3 linked regions of the Homo sapiens genome follow. The protein of the gene in region 2 interacts with the protein of the main gene of each other region in a pairwise test. Each region holds a gene or a part of one and is shown on either strand. Other genes may lie near its edges.

Evidence for each region. The genes of interacting proteins can lie anywhere in the genome.
Region 1: the proteins of UBE2L6 (region 2) and RNF19B interact in binary tests that used the Homo sapiens proteins (3 or more experiments, as listed by UniProt).
Region 3: the proteins of UBE2L6 (region 2) and ARIH2 interact in binary tests that used the Homo sapiens proteins (3 or more experiments, as listed by UniProt).

What each region holds. Positions count from the first base shown.
Region 1 is NC_000001.11:32,954,786-32,961,809, reverse strand, and holds part of RNF19B (E3 ubiquitin-protein ligase RNF19B), read left to right. Parts: intron 1-7,024.
Region 2 is NC_000011.10:57,551,152-57,557,686, forward strand, and holds the end of UBE2L6 (ubiquitin/ISG15-conjugating enzyme E2 L6), read right to left. Parts: intron 3,473-6,535; coding exon 3,286-3,472; intron 1,359-3,285; coding exon 1,207-1,358; 3' UTR 511-1,206; downstream 1-510. UniProt on the Homo sapiens protein: Catalyzes the covalent attachment of ubiquitin or ISG15 to other proteins. Functions in the E6/E6-AP-induced ubiquitination of p53/TP53. Promotes ubiquitination and subsequent proteasomal degradation of FLT3.
Region 3 is NC_000003.12:48,914,073-48,921,865, reverse strand, and holds the start of ARIH2 (E3 ubiquitin-protein ligase ARIH2), read right to left. Parts: upstream 3,025-7,793; 5' UTR 2,868-3,024; exon of another isoform or gene 2,481-2,867; intron 1-2,480.

The DNA.
Region 1 (7,024 bases), on a different chromosome or scaffold from region 2:
AGAAAATAATTTTCAAGCTTGGTGACAACTCTCAACTATTTGGAAGTTATTAAAAAATTAGGCCATTTCTTATTTTAGCCAAGTATTATGTTAGTATCCTCCAGATTTTATTTTTTTAATTAGTTAGAAGAATGATAATCATATATATAGTTATATATATAAACAATGTATTTTTTTATATGTGTCATCTACGGACTTAAGGTGGAGTTTGGGGAAAGAAGAAAGCTGGCCTCTCAATACCTGTGTGCCAGGTATATATAATTTAATTCGATACAACCTTGTGAGATAGGTTTAGGTTTGATATAGTTTTATAAATGAGGAAACTAAAGTTTAAGGAAATTGAATGACTTGTTCAGGGTCATATAACTAGTAAGTGGTGGAACCAGGCTTAGAACAGGGGTCTTAATTCCAACCAATGCCAATATTCCTTCCATTCAGCCCCTGTTTTAAAAAGCATTTGCTTGTCAACATAGCCGCATTATTGAGGATGCTGCTGCTTGGGTGCATTTCATTAAGTGTAGCCTGAGGACAACATGGAGAAAGCCAAAGATACTAGAGTCTAGTTTCCTTTCTGATTCCTGTTGTTAACAGCCTCCTACCTACGTTATTTTTCTTATCTGAAATAGGTCTAATTCTTTCCTGACTTGAGAGGTTTAATTAATGTTTACACGGTGTTTTGAGATCTTCAGTTGAAAGTGGTTATAGGGAGTAACTTTAAAATTCTGTTAGTTGCCAAATAGATGCCTGAGTTCTCCCTTGGGATGTGCCTAGTGGCTTTGCATCTCTTTTTTTTTGAGACAGCGTCTCGCTCTGTCACCCAAGCTGGAGTGCAGCAGTGGTGCAATCACGGCTCACTGCAGCCTCAATCTCCTGGGCTCAGGCGATCCTCCTGCCTCAGCATCTCAAGTAGCTGGGAACACGGGTGCATGCCACCAAGCCCAGCTAATTATTATTATTAATATTATTATTATTATTTGTAGAGATAGGGTCTCCCTGTGTTGCCCAGGCTGGTCTCGAACTCCTGGGCTCAAGCTGTTTTCCCGCCTTGGCCTCCCAAAGTGCTGGGATTATTGCTGCCTCTTTTTAATGCCAGGAAAAAAAATAGCTTCTGTGTTCTTACTGGATGTCATGGTTCCCTTGTTTTGTTTTGAACAGTGTTGTTTTGTTTTGTTTTAGAGACAGAGTCTCACTCTGTGCCCAGGCTGGAGTGCAGTGGCATGATCATGGCTTACTACAACCTTGAACTCCTTGACTAAAGCAGTACTCCCACCTCAGCCTCCTGAGTAACTGGGATTATAGGCACGAACCACTGCACACTGCTCCTTTGTTTTATTTTTTTAAACAAATCGTTCTATTCTTCTGGGGCTGGTAGAGGTCATTGATAAACACTAGAAGAGAAGTCCAAGTCCCAGTTACCTCCTATTCCCATACCTGACCATCTTTACTGCCCACAGATAAAGTTCTTGCCAGCCAAATTGATCAGGTCTCCCCTCTGCCTTGTTTGTATGTGCATTTGGTAGGGTGAGGGGGGCATGTGAGCAATCTTACAGGTTCTGATCATTAGTTTTACTATAATTACTCATAATAACAAGAACACCATACATTCAGAGATTCATGATTTGTTTACAGAATATTTGTAGGATAGAGCAAAGAGTTTTGGATTTTTCTTCTCTTACACTCAAATATGGTTTTATTTTATTCATAAATAAGGGAACCAATTTCAGTGGGAAAACATTCACATTATAATTTTTTTTTTTTTGAGACGGAGTCTCGCTCTGTCACCCAGGCTGGAGTGCAGTGGCACCATCTCTGCTCAGTGCAAGCTCTGCCTGCCGGGTTCACGCCATTCTCCTGCCTCAGCCTCCTGAGTAGCTGGGACCACAGGCGCCCACCACCACGCCTGGTTAATTTTTTTTTTTTTTTTTTTTGTATTTTTAGTAGAGACGGGGTTTCACCGTGTTAGCTAGGATGGTCTCGATCTCCTGACCTCGTGATCTGCCCACCTCGGCCTCCCAAAGTGCTGGGATTACAGGCGTGAGCCACTGTGCCCGGCCTCACATTATTATTTAATATACTAAGAACAATATGGCCTAGTATAATCTTAAAACAAGCTGTCAAATGAGATAAAATTAGTTCAAAATACAAATAACTGATTTTTTATAGTTCTTTATAGTCTTCAGACTATAATCTCATTCAGACATAATTTCATTTTAGTCTCATCCAGGTGGATATTGGCGTGCATTTTATAAAGGAGAAACCAGTTCAGAGAAGTTTAAACATGGGGCCTAGTGTTTCATTGCTAATAATTGGTACAATTGATCTTTTACGCTTTTGAGTCTCTGCCCAAGTATGTCTTTTCAGAAACCCCGAAGTCAGGTAACTGTAATGTTTTCCTCTCAAGTATCCTGTTGCTAATCTTAAAACCCTTTCAGAATCTCTAGGAGACTGACGGGTGAGCAAAGTAGGCAACAGAAAATTTCCTGGTGTACAGGGGCAGATCTTCTGTACAGATGAATAAGAAGGGATAAGGCTGTCTTGACCTAAATTCTTTGTGCAGGTCCACCACTCCAGCCTTTCATTGCTGCCTCTGTCCTCTGCAGAATCCTTCCTCCCACCTGATCCCAGGAAACAGTATCAGCTATTGGCCTTCCCAGACAACTAGACTGGACCATCCCATAAACAGGAAGCTTTTTTCATCCCTAGCACATTTATGAGGGAAGATCAAGCAAGCTCTTTGAGCAAGACAAATTTCAGTCAGTGAAGGAGGATTTTTGCTTTCTGAAGCCTCCCTGAACCTCTTCTCTTGATTTGGCTCCATACCTCCTGTTCCACAACTTTTCCCTGCATTCCCCAACTCCACACCACCCCCTCCTCTTGTGCACGTACACCAACCTCCATCCCAATACATCTGTCTCAGATTTGCCAAAGTACTTGTACTAAAGGAGAACATCTGTATCACTCCCCTGCCTAAGACTATTCATTGACTACCTAACCTATAAGATGAGTTCTTATTATGTCTTTGAGAACTTATTTGATCTACCCTTATCATTTAAGCTCCTTTACAGTTTCCAACCATCTTTTTTTTTTTTTTAGATGGAGTCTCGCTCTGTTGCCCAGGCAGGCTGGAGTGCAGTGGTGCAATCTCGGCTCACTGCAAGCTCCACCTCCCGGGTTCATGCTATTCTCCTGCCTCAGCCTCCTGAGTAGCTGGGACTACAGGCACCTGCAACCATGCCTGGCTAATTTTTTGTATTTTTAGCAGAGACGGGGTTTTACCGTGTTAGCCAGGATGGTCTCGATCTCCTGACCTCGTGATCCACCCATCTCAGCCTCCCAAAGTGCTGGGATTACAGGCGTGAGCCACCACGCCCGGCCATCTCCAACCATCTTTTGATTTTATTTTCTATTTTTCACTCACATCACTATTTCCTAAGGTATGTTATAGGCATTACTTGAAAGAAAAATGTTTTGTGAGGAAATAAGCTTGGAAAATACTGAGTTAAACAAAATAAAACAAGTTTATGAGTTTCTTAAATCTTTAAACATGCTAATATGCTAATATGTAGTATAAATCTTCAATATAATGTAATTTCCCCAATTTAGATCACCAGGAAACAGGTTTTTGTTTTTTCTGTAGCATCTTTAAGGCTTAACTCAAACTTTCCCTAAACTCCTTTAATAGTTACCATGCTGGCCTGCCTTTGGTTAGTGTCCTTATTTAACCATAAACCTTATGCTCTGAATAGATTGAGAGCTCATGTCTCTAGACTAGGATATCTATATTCCAACCATTTCTACAACTCTGTGTACAAAGTCTTTCAATTAGGCTCTAGAAGAGTGTGGTACATAGATGAATTTTGATGAAAAAGATAAGAAATATGAGCAGCATAGTTCTCAGAGGAAGAATAGAGATGAAAGAGATAAGCAAGAATAGTATAGACAGGTGATCATTCAATTCAACAGACAACTTTTTTTTGAGATGGAGTCTCGCTTTGTCGCCCAGGCTGGAGTGCAGTTGTGCCATCTCAGCTCACTGCAACCTCTGCCTCTCGGGTTCAAGCGATTCTTCTGCCTCAGCCTCCCAAGTATCTGGGATTACAGGCATGTGCCACAATGTCCAGCTAATGTTTGTATTTTTAGTAGAAACAGGGTTTCACCATGTTGGCCAGGCTGGGCTTGAATTCCTGACTTCAAGCGAGCCACCCGCCTCACCCTCCCAAAGTGCTGGGATTACAGGTGTGAGCCACCACACCTGGCTTCAACAGATACTTTCAGAATGATACACTGTTGAACCCTGGGTGAGTACTGGGTATTTCAAAAAGAACTTAGACATGGTTTTCTTGATAGGAAGTTTCACCTGGTAGAGGAGACAGATAATTGATACATAGATAGATAGAAAATTATTCAAATGTCATATGATAAATACTAAAGAAAATACGGGTGCTCTTAGATAGATGAAAGAACAATAGAATTTGCATGATGGTTTCAAGAAAGACTTCACAGAGGAGCAGGCATGGTGGTGTGCACCTGTGGTCCCAGCTGCTTAGGAGGCTGAGGTGGGAGGATTAGTTGAGCCCAGGAGTTCGAGACCAGCCTGGGTAATAGCAAGACCCCATACCTGGGAAATGACTAGAGATCAACCTGAAAACGTGGACTGGATTCAGGTTGATAGGCCTGTGTAAGCCATGGAAATAAGTTTTGGGTTGAAGCACTTTTTTTCTTTTTTCTTTTTCTTTGAAGGATTTTAAGCAAAAGAGTAACCTTCCAGAATGGAATTTGGATGGAGTGGGGAATAGGGAGAGCAGATAAGGAGGCTCTTGGAGTTGTCTAGCCTAGAGATGGGTCTTAAATAGGGCAGGAAAAATGAAGATGTTAAGGGTACAGTTCATTGTGACAAGTTGGCGCATGTCTACCACCCTGATGCCTACTAGGGGTCTATTTGTAAATGGGTAGCCTAGTTATGTTACATGACTTGGGGATGGAAAGTACAGACATAATATAGGAACACATTTCTTTAACCACTGAAGTCTATTGGAGCATAATCAAATTTATACTAATGGAAATCTCTTTCCAGGGCTGAAGCTAAGTAATGCTGTGGTCTAGCTTGTCACTTTATGAAGTTTCTGAAGATTTAGGAAATTAATAAAATGAGTAAAAGTTGTATGAACTTAAGCAGCAGGGGCTGGGGTGGGCGGTCTGTAGTCTTTTTCTTTTTTATTATTTTTTATTTTTTTGAGATAGGGTTTAACTCTGTAACTCTGTTGCCCGTGCTGGAGTGCAGTGGTGCAATTTCAGCTCACTAGAACCTCAACCTCCCAGGCTCAGGTGATCCTCCCACCTCAGCCTCCTAAGTAGCTGGGACTGCAGGCATGTGCCACCACACGCCACCGCGCCCCACCACACTCGGCTAATTTTTGTTGTTGTTGTTATTTGAAGAGAGAGTCTCACTCTGTCACCCAGGCTGGAGTGCAGTGGTGCAATCTCGGCTCACAGCAACCTCTGCCTCCTGGATTCAAGTGATTCTCCTGCCTCAGCCTCCCGAGTAGCTGGGAGTAGCTGGGACTACAAGTGCACGCCACCATGCCCAGCTAATTTTTTTGTATTTTTAGTAGAGAGGGGTTTTGTCAGGTTGGCCAGGCTGGTCTCGAACTCCTGACCTCAGGTGATCCACCCACCTCAGCCTCCCAAAGTGCTGGGATTACAGGCATGAGCCACCATGCCCGGCCTAATTTTTGTGTCTTTCGTAGAGATGGGATTTCACCATGTTGCCCTGGCTGGTCTTGAACTCTTGGGTTCAAGTGATCCTCCTGCCTTTGCCTGACAAAGTTCTGGGGTTATGGGCATGAGCCACTGCACCCAGCTGTGTCTGTATTCTTCACAGCATGTAATTTTCTACACCTTTCTTTTAGCTTCTGATTAGCAAGCCTGACTGATTGGTTAAGCTAAAAGAGCAGAGTAGGAGAGATGCACCAGCATGGGACGTGGAAGAGAAGGAACAAAGTGGACAGGGCAGATTGGGTTTCAAGGATGAGGTATTTTCTTTTCTTTTTTTTTTTTTTTTGAGACAGGGTTTAGCTCTGTCTCCCAGGCTGGAGTGCAGTGGCACGATCTTGGCTCACTGCAGCCTCCACCTCCCGGGCTGTAGCCGTCCTCCCACCTCAGCCTCCTGAGTAGCTGGGACTACAGGCATGCACTACAGGCATGCACCACCACGCCTAGCTAATTTTTGTATTTTTTTTTTTTGTAGAGATGGGGTTTTGCCATGTTGCCCAGACTGGTCTCGAACTCCTGAGCTCAAGCAATCCACCCACCTTGGCTTCCCAAAGTGCTGGGATTACAGGTGTGATCCACCATGCCCAGGCGAGGTTTTTTTTTTCCAACTATTCGGGAAGAAGATTACCGTATTCAGAACTTAGGGGTTTACCACTAAAGTGGGTTTATATGAAATTTTAGGATTAGGTTATAGTACCTGGCATATAATAAGCCAATAGATACATGGATACATTGAAAAGATTGCTTTAGAGCAGAGTGATGGCCTAGGAGAAGACCTAGAATGTCCTAGGGAAGGTCAAACAACCAAAACAAGAGAGGGTCTCTGTCATTCATGCAACACAGGTATTTTGAGCATGAACCAGTATACTAGACTGAGATTAAAAAGTGGATGATATGTCTCCTTAAGTCCAGTGTGGTTTGGAAGGCAAGCATATAAACAGTTAGTTACATTATAATGTAAGTGTTATAAAATAATTGTGCACACCCACGAAGTAGGCAACGAGCTGCCTAGAGAGGTTAAGTATATTTTACAGAGAAAATGACACCTGAGTTGGTTCTTAAATGGGTACTTGTCAGGGCAAGAAGTAAGGACAAGACATTTCTAGGTAGAAGGAATAGAGTATGTAAAAGCCAGAAAGTAGGACAGAGTGTACGATGTTTTTACGCCATATATCTTTGAGGACAAGGTCTCACATGCAGTTTTAGAACGTGTTTAGCTACGTTTGAATGTGACAAGTACCTATACCTCCAT
Region 2 (6,535 bases):
TCACACCTATAATCCCAGCACTTTGGGAGGCTGAGGCGGGTGGATCACCTGAGGTCAGGAGTTCGAGACCAGCCTGGCCAATGTGGTGAAACCCCATCTTTACTAAAAATACAAAAATTAGCCAGGCGTGGTGGCGGGCATCTGTAATCCCAGTTACTCAAGAGACTGAGGCAGGAGAATCGCTTGAACTCAGGAGGCGGAGGTTGCAGTGAGCCGAGATTGCACTGCTGCACTCTAGCCTGGGCGACGGAGTGAGATTCTGTCTTAAATAAATAAATAAATAAATAAATAAATAAATAAATAAAATAAAATGGGGACGTCACCCCTGTGGACCTTCTGAAAGCTCCTCTGTCCAAGGATGGCCTATTTTTCCATGGCCAACATTCCTTATGATGTTTAGGGAACATTCAAGGGAAGCAAGGTCAGAAATTTATGCTTAAATCCCTAGTCCTCTATGGTCCTGATGAAACCACCCCATCCCCTCATCAAAGACTCAGCTGCACTCCAGAATTCATCTCTGACTTTAATGGCTTAAGCAAGAACATGGTTTCCGTGGCTCCCCCTGGACTGAATGCTGGAGGATATATACTTCACAGTCTGAGGCCTGGTCCCAGGAACTGGCAATCTAACAGGATGGCAAGTGGTTTTGAAACATATAGATTTTCAGGATGGAAGTTTGATTCTTCAGATTGTGACTCATCCGTGGAAAATAAATGGTTTAGCACCTAAATCTGTATATTCCCATCAGTGGCTTGGCTGACTCAGTTGTAAATAGGGTACCCTCCATCTGTCTCCCACCCATATGCTCCACTGTCCCCAGGCCCTCAGTGCCTGAGCCCTAGGGGGATTCGAGTTGGCTGCTGGATTCATTTCCTGCAAGCAGGCCTGCAAGGTGACCTGTCTCTCTAAGATGGAGAGCTGGAGAACTGGCCTGTAACTGCAAACTTAAACTCCCTTGGCTCTGGGGAATGTAAAGGGTGTGGGAAGGGTGCACCTGTGGCCAGGTGAACCTGGGAGTGAGTCCATACACAACACACACACTCATAGCTCCCTTCCCTCCACCACACACACACACAAACTAATGACTAACAACCTAAGAAGGGAAAAATGAATGGGGAATGGGCCACAGGGGGCTCTGGCCTCAGTCCATGAGGTGTGTCCGTCCGCTATGCCGAGGATCCAGTGCACAGAGGGTCAGAACATGAGTTAGGAGGGCCGGTCCACTCCGAATCGGAGGGTGAACTCTTCGGCATTCTTTCTGAACAGCTCCGGATTCTGTGTCAGCAGGTCAGCGAGGTCCATCCGCAGGGGCTCCCTGATATTCGGTCTATTCACCAGCACATTGAGGGCCTCCAGGACTGGGGAGAGACAGGCCAGATCAGGATATCAGGGCAGAGGGAAGGGAGTCATGGCTGCCCGTTCCCAATGTCCTGACACTCCACACTCACTCCTTGGGGGAAAGGTTACATCGCTTAGGATTACTCTACGACCAGATCAAACGCCCCGCTCATTCTTGGCTGGTGACACCCAAGGCCTTGACTGATTACATCAGTGGTTTTCAAACAACTACATTCCATGGCTTCAGAGAAGCTCCTCATCACAGGGGCCACTGAGATAAGTGAGGTTTCTGGGTCTTATCCCCATTTCAACAAAAACTGCTCTGTTTTCCTCCATTATATTGGTAGTCCAAATAAACTTTTCCTTGGGCAAAAGAGGTCTAAGGCTAAAGACTGAAAACCACCACTGCCCCCTGGCTCTTCATCTTTCACAGATGCCTTTGGGAACCTAGTGAAGGCAGCAGCCCATCTCCCGAGACAGATGTGCACATCCACATGCAAAACAGACAGTTCCCAGACCCCCTGAAGCTCATCCAAGGACCACTCCTCTCCCTGCTCCCACTCCCACCAACCTAAGGACTTTCATTTCCTGAGTTAAAAACTCCTGAGCTGGTCCAGGTGGAGGATTGCACACTGATTCAGCCACAGGCTCTAGAGCTGTGTTGTTCAATATGGTAGCCATTAGCCACATGCAGGCATCTAAATTTAAATGAATTAAAATCAGGCTGGGCACGGTGGCTCACGCCTGTAATCCCACCACTTTGGGAGGCCAAGATGGGTGGATGGCTTGAACTCACGAGTTTGAGACCAGCCTGGGCAATATGGCAAAACCTGGTATCTACAAAGCATGCAAAAATTAGCCAGGTATAGTGGCATGCTCCTGTAGTCCCAGTTACTCGGGAGGCTGAGGTGGGAGGATGGCTTGAGCCCAGGAGGTGGAGGTTGCAGTGAGCCAAGATTGCGCCACTGAACTAACTGCCTGGGCAATAGAGACAGACCGTGTCTCAGTAGAAAAAACAAAAAGGATTAAAATTAAGTACAATTAAGAATTGAGTTCTGGCCAGGCGCAGTGACTCACACCTGTAATCCCAGCACTCTGGGAGGCGGAGGCAGGCGGATCGCCTGAGGTCAGGAGTTCGAGACCAGCCTGGCTAACATGGCAAAACCCCTCTCTATTAAAAATACAAAATAGCTGGGTGTGGTGTCATACGCCTGTAATTCCAGCTATTCAAGAAGCTGAGGCCGGAGAATCGCTTGAACCTGGGAGGTGGAGGTTGCAGTGAGCCAAGATCGCGCCACTGCACTCCAGCCTAGGCGACAGAGCGAGACTCTGTCTTAAAAAAGAAAAAGAATTGAGTTCTTCAGTTGCAACAGCCACATGTGGCTTGCGAGTCAGCCAAGTGCTGCCGTTTGTCATCTGTATGACCTTAGGCAACCACTTCACCTCTCACATGCCTCAGATGTCCGGGTCTACTAAACAACACTACCTCACGGGCTTGTTGGGGAAATAAAAATGAAGTCGGCAGGTGATGTTTTTAGCACAGTGCCGAAAGTGCTCAGTCAAGTGACAGGTATTATCATTATGAGGCCAGTTCCCTCCACTGTCATTTAGGACACCGAGTCCCAGAAAGGAACGAAAACTTGCCCAAAGTCCACAGAGGGAACAGCGGGCTTTCTTTTCCCGAGCCCTTCCCTGTGCAGCCAAGCTGCCTCTCCCATGAACCGCAGCAACGTTCCTCTGTCACAACTGCACAGGTATAAGAAGAGAGGCAGGAGGAGGTCAGTCTGTCCAGGAAGCATCCCTTCTATCTCATAGTAAGTTCAGCCAAGACTCACAATTTTTATCTCCTCTCTTTGGGGCTTTTCAAGCTCAGAATAAGCTGTGAACCCCCTCTCCAGTAATCTCTACCCAGTATCAGTCCCTCCTCCAAGCAAAGCCCAACCCCACCTTGGCAAGTCTTGGTGCAAGGCTTCCAGTTCTCACTGCTGATGATGGGCAGGCAAATCTGTCCGTTCTCGTCCACGTTGGGGTGGTAGATCTTGGTTGTGAATTTGATCATGGGAGGCTTGAACGGATACTCCGGCGGGAAGCTGATGCGCAGGTTGAAGGCTTTCAGGTGGTAGGGAGGTTGGTCCTGTGCAGAGAGAAAAGGGGTCAAGCTCCAGTCTGGTTTTCCTCCCTTCCTGCCCCAATCCGAGGGTCCTAGGCATCCTCTGCTTCACTCCCAGGAGGAATCATGAGCCAGGACACACACAGCACCTGCATTCATTTGACAATTGAGTCATGGATTAGTGAAAATGTGAAATCACCAAAGGGCACTGGCCTGGGAGGCAGAGAAGTCTGATCCTGGCTTTTGCTGTGTGACCACGGGTGAGCCACTTCCCACCTCTAGGCCTCAGTTTCCTCATTTGAAAAGTGGATAAAGATGGACTAGATGAGCTCTAAGGACCATCTCAGCTTTCAAGACTTTCTGAGATTATGGAAGAAAAGGATGGAACATCCTTTCTTAAAACATTAGAATGGGGGTGAGGAAATGGAGAAAATGAGGAAATCCTAAGAACTCAGGAGCTTAGGAAAATAAAATGGTGCAGCTGTGATGGAAAACAGTATGGCCATTTCTCAAAAGATTAGACACAGAATTACCATATGATCCAGCAGTTCTACTTCTGGGTAGACACCCAAAGAACTGAAAGCAAACAGGTATTTGTATACCAATGTTTCTAGCAGCCAAAAGGTGAAAGCAAACCAAGTGTCTATCAATGGATCAATCAACAAAACGTGGCATATACACACAATGGAGTATTATTTAGCCTTAAAAGGAATGAAATTCTGATATATGCTACAACACGGATGAACCTTGAAGACACTATGCTACAGGAAATAAGCTAGACAAAAAAAGGACAGATTTGCAAGATACCACTTATGTGCAGTACCCAGAATAGTCAAATTCATAGAAACAAAATACAAAAGTGGTCACCAGGTGCTGGGGAAAGAAAGGAATGGGGAGTTACTGAAGGGGTACAGAGTTTCAGTACAGGTAGACAAAAAGTTCTAGAGATGAACGGTGGTGATGGTTGTGCAACAATGTGTGTTTGTTTGTTTACTGAAGCAGGGTCTCGCTCTGTCACCCAGGCTGGAGTGCACTGGCATTATCATTGCTCACTGTAATCTCAAACTTCTGGGCTCAAGTGATCCTCCCACCTCAGCCTCCTGAGTAGCTGGTACTACAGGGGCCCACCACCATATCTGGCTAATTAAAAAAATTTTTTTGATAGGGTCTCACTGTGCCAGGGCTGGTCTTGAACTCCTGGACTTGAGCAATCCTTTTGCTCTGGCCTCCAGATTACTGGGATTACGAGCGTGAGCCACCATGCCCAGCTGTAATCCTATTTAATCCTATTTAATGACACTGAACTATATACTTAAAAATGGTTAAGATAGTAAATTTTGTTATGTGTATTTTACTATGATTAAAAACAAACAAACTCAGGGGCTGGAGTGACCTAGGGGTTGGGAGCTGCAAGGAGCCAGCAGAAGACCCTCTAGACTTTGAGCCACCTGAACACTTTTCTGAGCACCTGTCTGTGCTGTCCTGTGCTAAGGGTTTGACATGCATTAGCCTGTGCAACAGAGTATGGGGGTCACACAGACTCCGGAGCCACCCTGCCTGGGTGTGATTCAACTCTGACACTCACTAGCCATGTGATCTAACTAGGTCAGGTGCGGTGCCTCACGTTTGTAATCCCAGCACTTGGAGCCACCCTGCCTGGGTGTGATTCGGCTCTGACACTCACTAGCCATGTGATCTAACTAGGCCGGGCACGATGGCTCACGTTTGTAATCCCAGCACTTTGGGAGTCCAAAGTGGGCAGATCCCCTGAGGTCGGGAGTTCAAGACAAACCTGACCAACATGGAGAAACCCTGTCTCTGTTAAAAATGCAAAATTAGCCGGGTGTGGTGGTGCATGCCTGTAATATCCGCTACACGGGAGGCTGAGGCAAGAACCGAGAGGCAGAAGTTGAACCTGGGAGGCTGACGTTGTGGTGAGCAGAGATCACACCCTTGCACTCCAGCCTGGGCAACAAGAGCAAAACTCCGTCTCAAAAAAAAAAAAAAAAAAAAAAAGAGAGATGGAGTAAAAAAAAGTAGGAAGATAAAGAAAATATCTCATTTTTTATGGTCTCAGTAAGGAGAAAAGGCTGTGCCTATCAGTCAGAGAAGGCCAACAGCTGAGGCCTCAGAGCAGGATGGGAGGGTGCTGTGGTTGGATGTTTTGTCTCCTCAAATCTCAGGTTGAAATTTGATCCCCAAGACCTACGTGGCGGTGGCTCGCGCCTGTAATCCTAGCACTTTGGGAGGCTGAGGCAGATGGATTGCCTGGGCTCAGGAGTTTGAGATCAGCCTGGGCAACATGATAAAACCCCGCCTCCACTAAAATACAAAAAGGTAGCTGGGCGTGGTAGCATGTGCCTGTAGTCCCAGCTACTCAGGAGGCTGAGGCATGAGAATTGCTTGAATCCAGGAGGCAGAGGTTGCAGTGAGTCTTGCTCTGCACTCCAGAGTGAGACTCTGTCACCAAAAAAAAAAAAAAGGAAAGAAAAGAAAAGAATTTGATCCCCAATGTTGGAGGTGGGGCCTACCAGGAGGCGTATGGGTCCTGGGGGCAGACCTCCCACGAATGGCTCCGTGGAATGGCTCCGTGCCAACCTCACAGTCATAAGAGAGTTCTTACTCTATTACTTACTGAAAAAGCTGGTTGTTTAGAAGATCCTGGCACCTGCTCGCTCTCTCTCTCTTTCACTTCTTCTCTTGCATGTGATCTGTACACGTGGCTCCCCTTTGCCTTCCACCATGAGTGGAAGCTTCCTGAGGCCTCATCAGAAGGAGATGCTGGTGCCATGCTTCTTTTTTTTTTTTTTTTTGAGATGGAGTTTCACTTTGCTGCCCAGGCTGGAGTGCAATGGCGTGATCTCGGCTCACCGCAACCTCTGCCTCCTAGGTTCAAGCGATTCTCCTGCCTCAGCCTCCCAACTAGTTGGGATTATAGGCATGCACCACCACACCCAGCTAATTTTGTATTTTTGGTAGAGACAGGGTTTCTCCATGTTGGTCAGGCTGGTCTTGAACTTCTGACCTCAGGTGATCCGCCCTCCTCGGCCTCCCAAAGACATGGGATTATAGACGTGAGCCACCATG
Region 3 (7,793 bases), on a different chromosome or scaffold from region 2:
GTGGGAGGATTTCTTGAGCACAGGAGGTTGAGGCTGCAGTGAGCCAAGATCACGCCACTACACTCCAGTCTAGGCGACAGAGTGAGACCCTGTCTTCAAAAAAGAAAAAAAAAAAGAAAAATTCCAGGACCACGTGTGGTGGCTCATGCCAGTAATCCCAGCACTTTGGTTTGGGAGGCCAAGGTGGGTGGACGGCTTCAGCTCAGGAGTTCAAAACAAGCCTGGGCAACATGGTGAAACCTCACTGCTACAAAAAACACAAAAATTAGCCAGGAATGGTGGCGCATACCTGTAATCCCAGCTACTCGGGAGGCTACGGCAGGAGAATTGCTTGATCTGGGAGATGGAGGCTGCAGTGAACCGAGACTGCACCACTGCACTCCAGCCTGGGCAACACAGTGAGACTCCGTGTCAAAAAAAAAAAAAAAAAAAAAGAAATTGCCCACAGGCTTTTCACCAACCAAATATTTAGGTGGGGAAAACTCCAGGCTCCTCCAAAAAAAAAAGAGAGAGAACTCCATTTCATACTAAATGTTCTAGGTGCAGATTTAAATGAAAATTTAATTTTTAATTATCTCAAAGTTAAATACCCAAATTCTACTTGAAAAAGTGGGCCGGGCACGGTGGCTCACGCCTGTGATCCCAACACTTTGGGAGGCTAAGGTGGCAGATCACAAGGTCAAGAGTTCGAGACCAGCCTAATCAACATGATGAAATCCTGTCTCTACTAAAAATACAAAAATTAGCTGGGCGTGGTAGCATGCGCCTATAATCCCAGCTACTCAGGAGGCTGAGGCAGGAGAATCGCTTGAACCCAGGAGGCGGAGGTTGCAGTGAGCCGAGATCGCGCCACTGCACTCCAGCCTGAGAGACAGAGCGGGACTCAAAAATAAAAATAAATAAATGAAAGAAAGAAAAAGTGCTGATCTTGTTCCAAGGGGACAATATTTCTTTTCTTTTCTTTCTTTTTTTTTTTTTTTGAGAGTCTTGCTGGAGTGCAGTGGCGCGATCTCGGCTCACTGGATTACAGGCGCCCGCCACCATGCCTGGCTAATTTTTTGTATTTTTAGTAGAGATGGGGTTTCACCGTGTTAGCCAGGATGGTCTCGATCTCCTGACCTCGTGATCCGCCCGCCTCGGCCTCCCAAAGTGAGGAGGATTATTTGAGTCCAGGAGATTGCAGCGAGCCATGATCACGCCACTGCCCTCCAACCAGCCTGGGTGTAATCCCAGCTGTAATCCCAGCTACTCGGGAGGCTAAGGCAGAACTGCTTGATCTGGGAGATGGAGGCTGCAGTGAACCGAGACTGCACCACTGCACTCCAGCCTGGGCAACACAGTGAGACTCCGTGTCAAAAAAAAAAAAAAAAAAAGAAATTGCTCACAGGCTTCTCACCAACCAAATATTTAGGTGGGGAAAACTCCAGGCTCCTCCAAAAAAAAAAGAGAGAGAACTCCATTTCATACTAAATGTTCTAGGTGCACATTTAAATGAAAATTTAATTTTTAATCATCTCAAAGTTAAATATCCGAATTCTACTTGAAAAAGTGGGCCGGGCACTTTTTCAAAAAAAATTTTTTTAAAGGTCATGCACAGTGGCTCACGCCTGTAATCCCAGCACTTTAGGAGGTCAAACCGGGAGGATAGCTTGAGCCCAGCAGTTCAAGACCAGCTTAGGCAACCTATTAAGATCACGTATCCACAAAAAATTTTACAAATTAGCCAGGTGTGGTGGTACGTGCCTGTGGTCCCAGCTACTTAGGAGGCTAAGAAAGGAGGATCACTTGAGCCCAGAAAGTCGGGGCTGCAGTTAGCTGTGATCGCCGCCACTGCACTCCAGCCTGGTGACAGCAACTTTGTCCCGCCCACCAAAAAAAAAAAAAAAAAAAATTTCCTCCAGAGCCAAAGTCACATGTTCAGGGGACCTAACAACCAACCATCCTGGGCTTGCCCACCACGCACAGAACACGTAAGTTTTAGTGAGTCTGAAGACGTTTACTCCAGATATGATCACTAGCGCTGAATTCAGGTCATTTACTAACTACACCTCCGAAGAAAAACGACTTGGCACAAAACTAGAAATCAGCAATTTCGTTTCAAAATCCTACACTTTGTATCTGTCTTTTCTAATACGGTGACCACTAGCCACATGTGGTTATTTAAATTTAATTACACTTAAAAAGTAAGTAAAATTTAAAATTTAGTTTCTCAGGTGCACTAGCCTACAGGTCAAATGCTTAACGGCCACGTGTGGCTAGTAGCTACCATGCTGAACAGCAAAGGTAAAGAACATGTCGCTATGACAGAAAGTTCTATGGGACCAGGCAATGAACAGTACTAAGGAGAAGTCATCCAAGAACGCGGCTGCCCAACCAGCTTCTGGCGAGGCGGCGGCACAGCTCCGGGGCCGCACATCCCTAGGGGCGCCGCGGGCTCCGGGATATTCGCGCGGACGCGGAGCCCGCGAGCTGGGGATACCCTCCACAGGCGGGCGTTAAACCGCGCGGGCAGCGCTGCGAGAGCTCCCAAAGATGACTCGAGTGGTGAGCCCCGAGGCGGCGCGTTTCCCCGCCGCGCCAGACAGGGAGAGAGGGCCTAGATGTGCCGGCGCCGGTTGGTCAGAGGCGGTGGCCTCTGACCTTTCCGAGAGCTGAGAAGGCGGCGGGAGGAAAAAAGGCAGACACACGCTGGGCGCCCGGCCGCTGACGGCGGGTAATGCTCGGACAACGTGCCGGCGACGGGGAGCGCCCGGGCCTCCCGGGCGACGGCGAAGGCGGAGTCCCGGCCCGGCCAGGGAGGCGCGCGGAGAGGCCCCCCCAGCGGCCAGCCAAGGTAAACAAGGCCGTGACGTGCGCCGCGCACTTACCGGGAGCTGCGGCCTCGCGGCCGCTGAGCCCGAACAAGCCAGACCGGGTCAGGCCGGGCCAGAGGGACCGGATTGGGGCGAAGCGGCAGCGGAGGCGGCGGGCCGACGCCGGTCAAGCCCGCGCTGCTTCCTCCAGAAGAGTCGTCCCCACAGCTCCGGAAGTGCTTGGCGCCGTTGCGTCACTTCCGGATCGGGGTCGACCCACGGTCGCTCGGGTCGCGACAGGCTCCCGGCTAGAGGGCCTGTTTAGCGCCGCCTCCTTGAAACTTAGCGCTCTGACCCAGAGTCTGACCAGGGTACGGCAGGCGCCGACCGCGTCTGGAGCCACTATTCGCCTACCAGCGTCTCCCGTCGAGATGTTTTTAACCAGCGCGTTTCTCACCGGCTTCTCATTTCACTGTTTGTACTCCGGGATCGGGCACGGAGAAGACATCCTGGCGTCAGTGGAGCAGATAACCATTGTTTCTCGGCCGCTATCTGGTCAGAGGGGAGCTGGGCCGGGAAATTCTGCCTACACCCCGAGGCGGTCGCAGGGTGGCCCCAGAGCCGCAACCACACCAGGCTTTCGCTTCCCCTGCCGAGGCCTCGTTCGCCGCGCAGTTCTCCGACTTACGGTCACCGTGCAAGATTGCATCTTAACTGCCTTGCTTGCAGTTTCTTTTCACAGTATAGGAGTTGTCATCATGACTTCCAGTTACCTTCTGGGACCGGTTGTCAAATGATGTGGCTAGAGACGGAGGCTCACTCAGATTGTTGCTGCACCACAATGGAAATGCCAGTATGAAGCCGCTGATGTTAGGAAGGCTCCAGGTTGTGCAATTCCATAGACAACAAATCAAATCATTTCCAACCATACTGGAGTCGCGTATATACATATTCAAGACACCTGTGCAGGCCGGGCGCGGTGGCTCAAGCCTGTAATCCCAGCACTTTGGGAGGCCGAGGCGAGTGGATCACGAGGTCAGGAGATCGAGACCATCCTGGCTAACACGGTGAAACCCCGTCTGTACTAAAAGTACAAAAAAATTAGCCGGACGTGGTGGCGGGCGCCTGTAGTCCCAGCTACTCGGGAGGCTGAGGCAGGAGAATGGCGTGAACCCGGGAGGCGGAGCTTGCAGTGAGTCGAGATGGCGCCACTGCACTCCAGCCTGGGCGACAGAGCGAGACTCTGTCTCAAAATAAAATAAAATAAAATAAAAAATAAAACAAATAAAGACACCTGTGCTGGCTGGTCGCTGTGGCTCATGCCTGTAATCCCTGCACTTTGGGAAGCCGAGGTGGGAGGATCGCTTGAGCCCAAGAATTTGATGTAGTGAGACCCCCCTCCTTTCTACAAAAAAATTAAAAATTAGCTGGGCGAGGTGGCACACACCTGTGCATCCCAGCTACTCAGGGGGCTGAGGTGATATAGGATCGCTTGAGCCGAGGAGGTCGAGGCTGCAGAGTGCCAAGATCGCACCACTGCAGTCCAGCATCGGTGATAGAAGGAGACCCTGTCTCAAAACAACAATAACAAACCATACAATGTAGAAAGCCATTAAAAATCATGCCGCGTGGCCGGGCACCGTGGCTCACGCCTGTAATCCCAGCACGTTGGGAGGCCGGAGCCGGCAGATCACGAGGTCAGGAATTCGAGACTGGCCTGACCAGCATGGTGAAACCCTGTCTCTACTAAAAATTTACAAAATTTGCCGGGCGTGATGGTGGGCGCCTGTAGTCCCAGCTACTCGGGAGGCTGAGGCAGGAGAATTGCTTGAACTCGGCAGGCGGAGGTTGCAGCGAGCAGAGATCGCGCCACTGCACTCCAGCCTGGGGGACAGAGCGAGACTCTGTCTCAAACAACAACAACAACAAAAACCTTGTCGGGTGGACTGCTCTGCCTATGGAGTAGCAATTACTTTTTTTTTTTTTTTTTTGAGACGGAGTCTCGCTCTGTCGCCCAGGCTGGAGTGCAGTGAGAGAGCCGCTATCTCCGCTCACTTCAACCTCCGCTTCCTGGGTTCAAGTGATTCTCCTGCCTCAGTCTCCCGAGTAGCTGGGACTACAGGCGCGCACCACCGCGCCCAGCTAATTTTTTTTTTTTTTTTTTTTTTTTGACGGAGTCTCTCTCTGTTGCCCAGGCTGGAGTGCAGTGGCGCGATCTAGGCTCACTGCAAGCTCCGCCTCCCGGGTTCACGCCATTCTCCTGCCTCAGCTTCCCGAGTAGCTGGGACTACAGGCGCCCGCCACCACGCCTAATTTTTTTTGTATTTTTAGTAGAGACGGGGTTTCACCGTGTTAGCCAGGATGGTAATTTTTGTATTTTTAGTAGAGACAAGGTTTCATCATGTTGGCCAGGATGGTCTGGATCTCTTGACTCCTTGATCCGCCCACCTCGGCCTCCCAAAGTTCTGGGATTACAGGCGTGAGCCACTGCTCCTGGTCTCCTTTGTTTCTTTACTTCTCTAATAAACTTGCTTTCACTTTACCAAAAAAAATGAAATAAATCATACTGGGTGGCAGGGCATGGTGGCTCAAGCCTGTAATCCCAGCACTTTGGGAAGCCAAGGTGAGAGGATTGCTTGAGCCCAGGAGTTGGAGACCAGCCTGGGCAACATAGTGAGATTCCATGTCTACAAAAAAAAGAAAAAGTTTTGGCCAGGTGTGGTGGCTCACGCCTGTAATCCCAGCACTTTGGGAGGCTGAGGCAGGTGGATCACTTGAGCCTAGGAGTTCAAGACCAGCCTGAGCAACATGGTGAAACCCCGTCTCTACAAAAAATACAAGTTAGCTGGATGTGCTTATAGCTCCACCTACTTGGGAGGCTGAGGTGGGAGGATCACTTAAGACCCAGGATGTGGAGGCTGCAGTGAGCAAGAGATCGGGCTACTGCACTCCAGCCTGGGGGACAGAGCCAGAACCTGTCTTCAAAAAAAGAAAAAAAAATGCTGTACTAAGGCACCTATTGACAAGGAAAGGTTATTTGTGATATACTCAAGTGATAAGAATAGGATAGGGGCCGGGTGTGGTGGCTCACACCTGTAATCCCAGCACTTTGGGAGGTGGAGGCGGGCGGATCGCCTGAGGTCAGGAGTTCCAGACCGGCCTGACCAACATGGCAAAACCCTGTCTCTACTAAAAAATACAAAAATTAGCCAGGCATGGTGGTGCATGCCTGTAATTCCAGCTACTCGGGAGGCTGAGGCAGGGAGAATAACTTGAACCCGGGAGGCGGAGGTTGCAGCGAGCCGAGATTGCACCACTGCACTCCAGCCTGGGCAACACAGTAGCTCTGTCTCAAAAAAGAAAAAGTAAATAAAATATGAATGCATATAAAATATACAAAGTCTCTCATGGTTTCTTTGGAACAGGAATCCAGACAAGCCACAATGGGAAGGTTTATCTCAGCTCCACAGCTGAGGGGGCCTCAGCAAGAAGACTCAAAGACTGGGGAGTGGAATCATAGGCAAAGTTGTTTACTCATACTTCTGGTGGGTGATGTCAGCTGGGGGCCTAGCTGGGGCTGTCAGCCAGAACATACACATGCATGATCTCTCCATGTGGCCTGTGCTTCCTGGTAACATGGTGGCTGGATTTGAAGGGCAAAGGTCTTTTTTTTTTTTTTTTTGAGACAGAGTATCACTCTATCGCCCAGGCTGGAGTGCAGTGGCATGATCTCAACTCACTGCAACCTCCTGGGTTCAAGTGATTCTTGTGCCTCAGCCTCCATAGTAGCTGAGATGTCAGGATGACAGGCGTGCACACCATGTTCAGCTATTTTTTCTGTTTTTTTTTCTTTGAGATGGAATTTTGCTCTTGTTGCCCAGGCTGCAGTACAATGGTGCGATCTCGGCTCACCACAACCTCCGCCTCCCGGATTCAAGCAATTCTCCCCGCTCAGCCTCCCAGGTAGCTAGGATTACAGGCATGCACCACCATGCCTGGCTAATTTTGTATCTTTAGTAGAGACGGGGTTTCTCCATGTTGGCCAGGCTGGTCTTGAACTCCTGACCTCAAGCCATCTGCCTGCCTCGGTCTCCCGAAGTGCTGGGATTACAGATGTGAGCTGCCAGGCCCAGTCAATTTTTGTATTTTTAGTAGAAATGGGATTTCACTGCCAGGCGCGGTGGCTCACACTTGTAATCCCAGCACTTTGGGAGGCCGAGACGGGCAGATTGCCTGAGGTCGGCAGTTCGAAACCAGCTTGCCCAACATGGTGAAACCCCGTCTCTACTAAAAAATACAAAAATTAGCCGGGCTTGGTGGTGGGCACCTGTAATCCCAGCTACTTGGGAGGCTGAGGCAGGAGAATTGCTTGAACCTGGGAGGTGGAGGTTGCAGTGAGCCAAGATCGCGCCACTCGTGCCACTGCACTCCAGCCTGGGCGACAAAGTGAGACTCTGTCTCGAGAAAAAAAAAAAAAAAAGAAAGAAATGGGGTTTCACCATGTTGGCCAGGCTGGTCTAGAACCCCTGGTCTCTAGTGATTTGCCTGTCTCAGCTTCCCAAAATTCTGGGATAACAGGTGTGAGCCACTCTGGCCGGCCAAGGGCAAGGGTCTTAAGAGAGTGAGAGCCAAGTGGAAGCCATGTTGCCCTTTGTGGCCTAACCTTCAAAGTCACACGGCATTACATCTGCCACATTTTATTAGTCAAAGCAGTTACAAAGATCCTCTCAGGTTCAAGGGGAGGGAATGCAGCTCCACCGTCAATGGAGAAACACCAACACTGCATTATAAGCAAAGCATATAAAATGAGATACAGGTTGGTGTAGCCATTTTTGGAAAATATGTGTCACAAAGCACATATTGCATATATCAGTATATCTCTCATCTTATTCATCTTTGTTTTTATTGAATTTAATTATGCAACTAATGTAATGATAACATGAAGTTGTAAAAATGTAATACAAGAATACTGATAGCAGCTTGTGAATACTCCCGTTAATA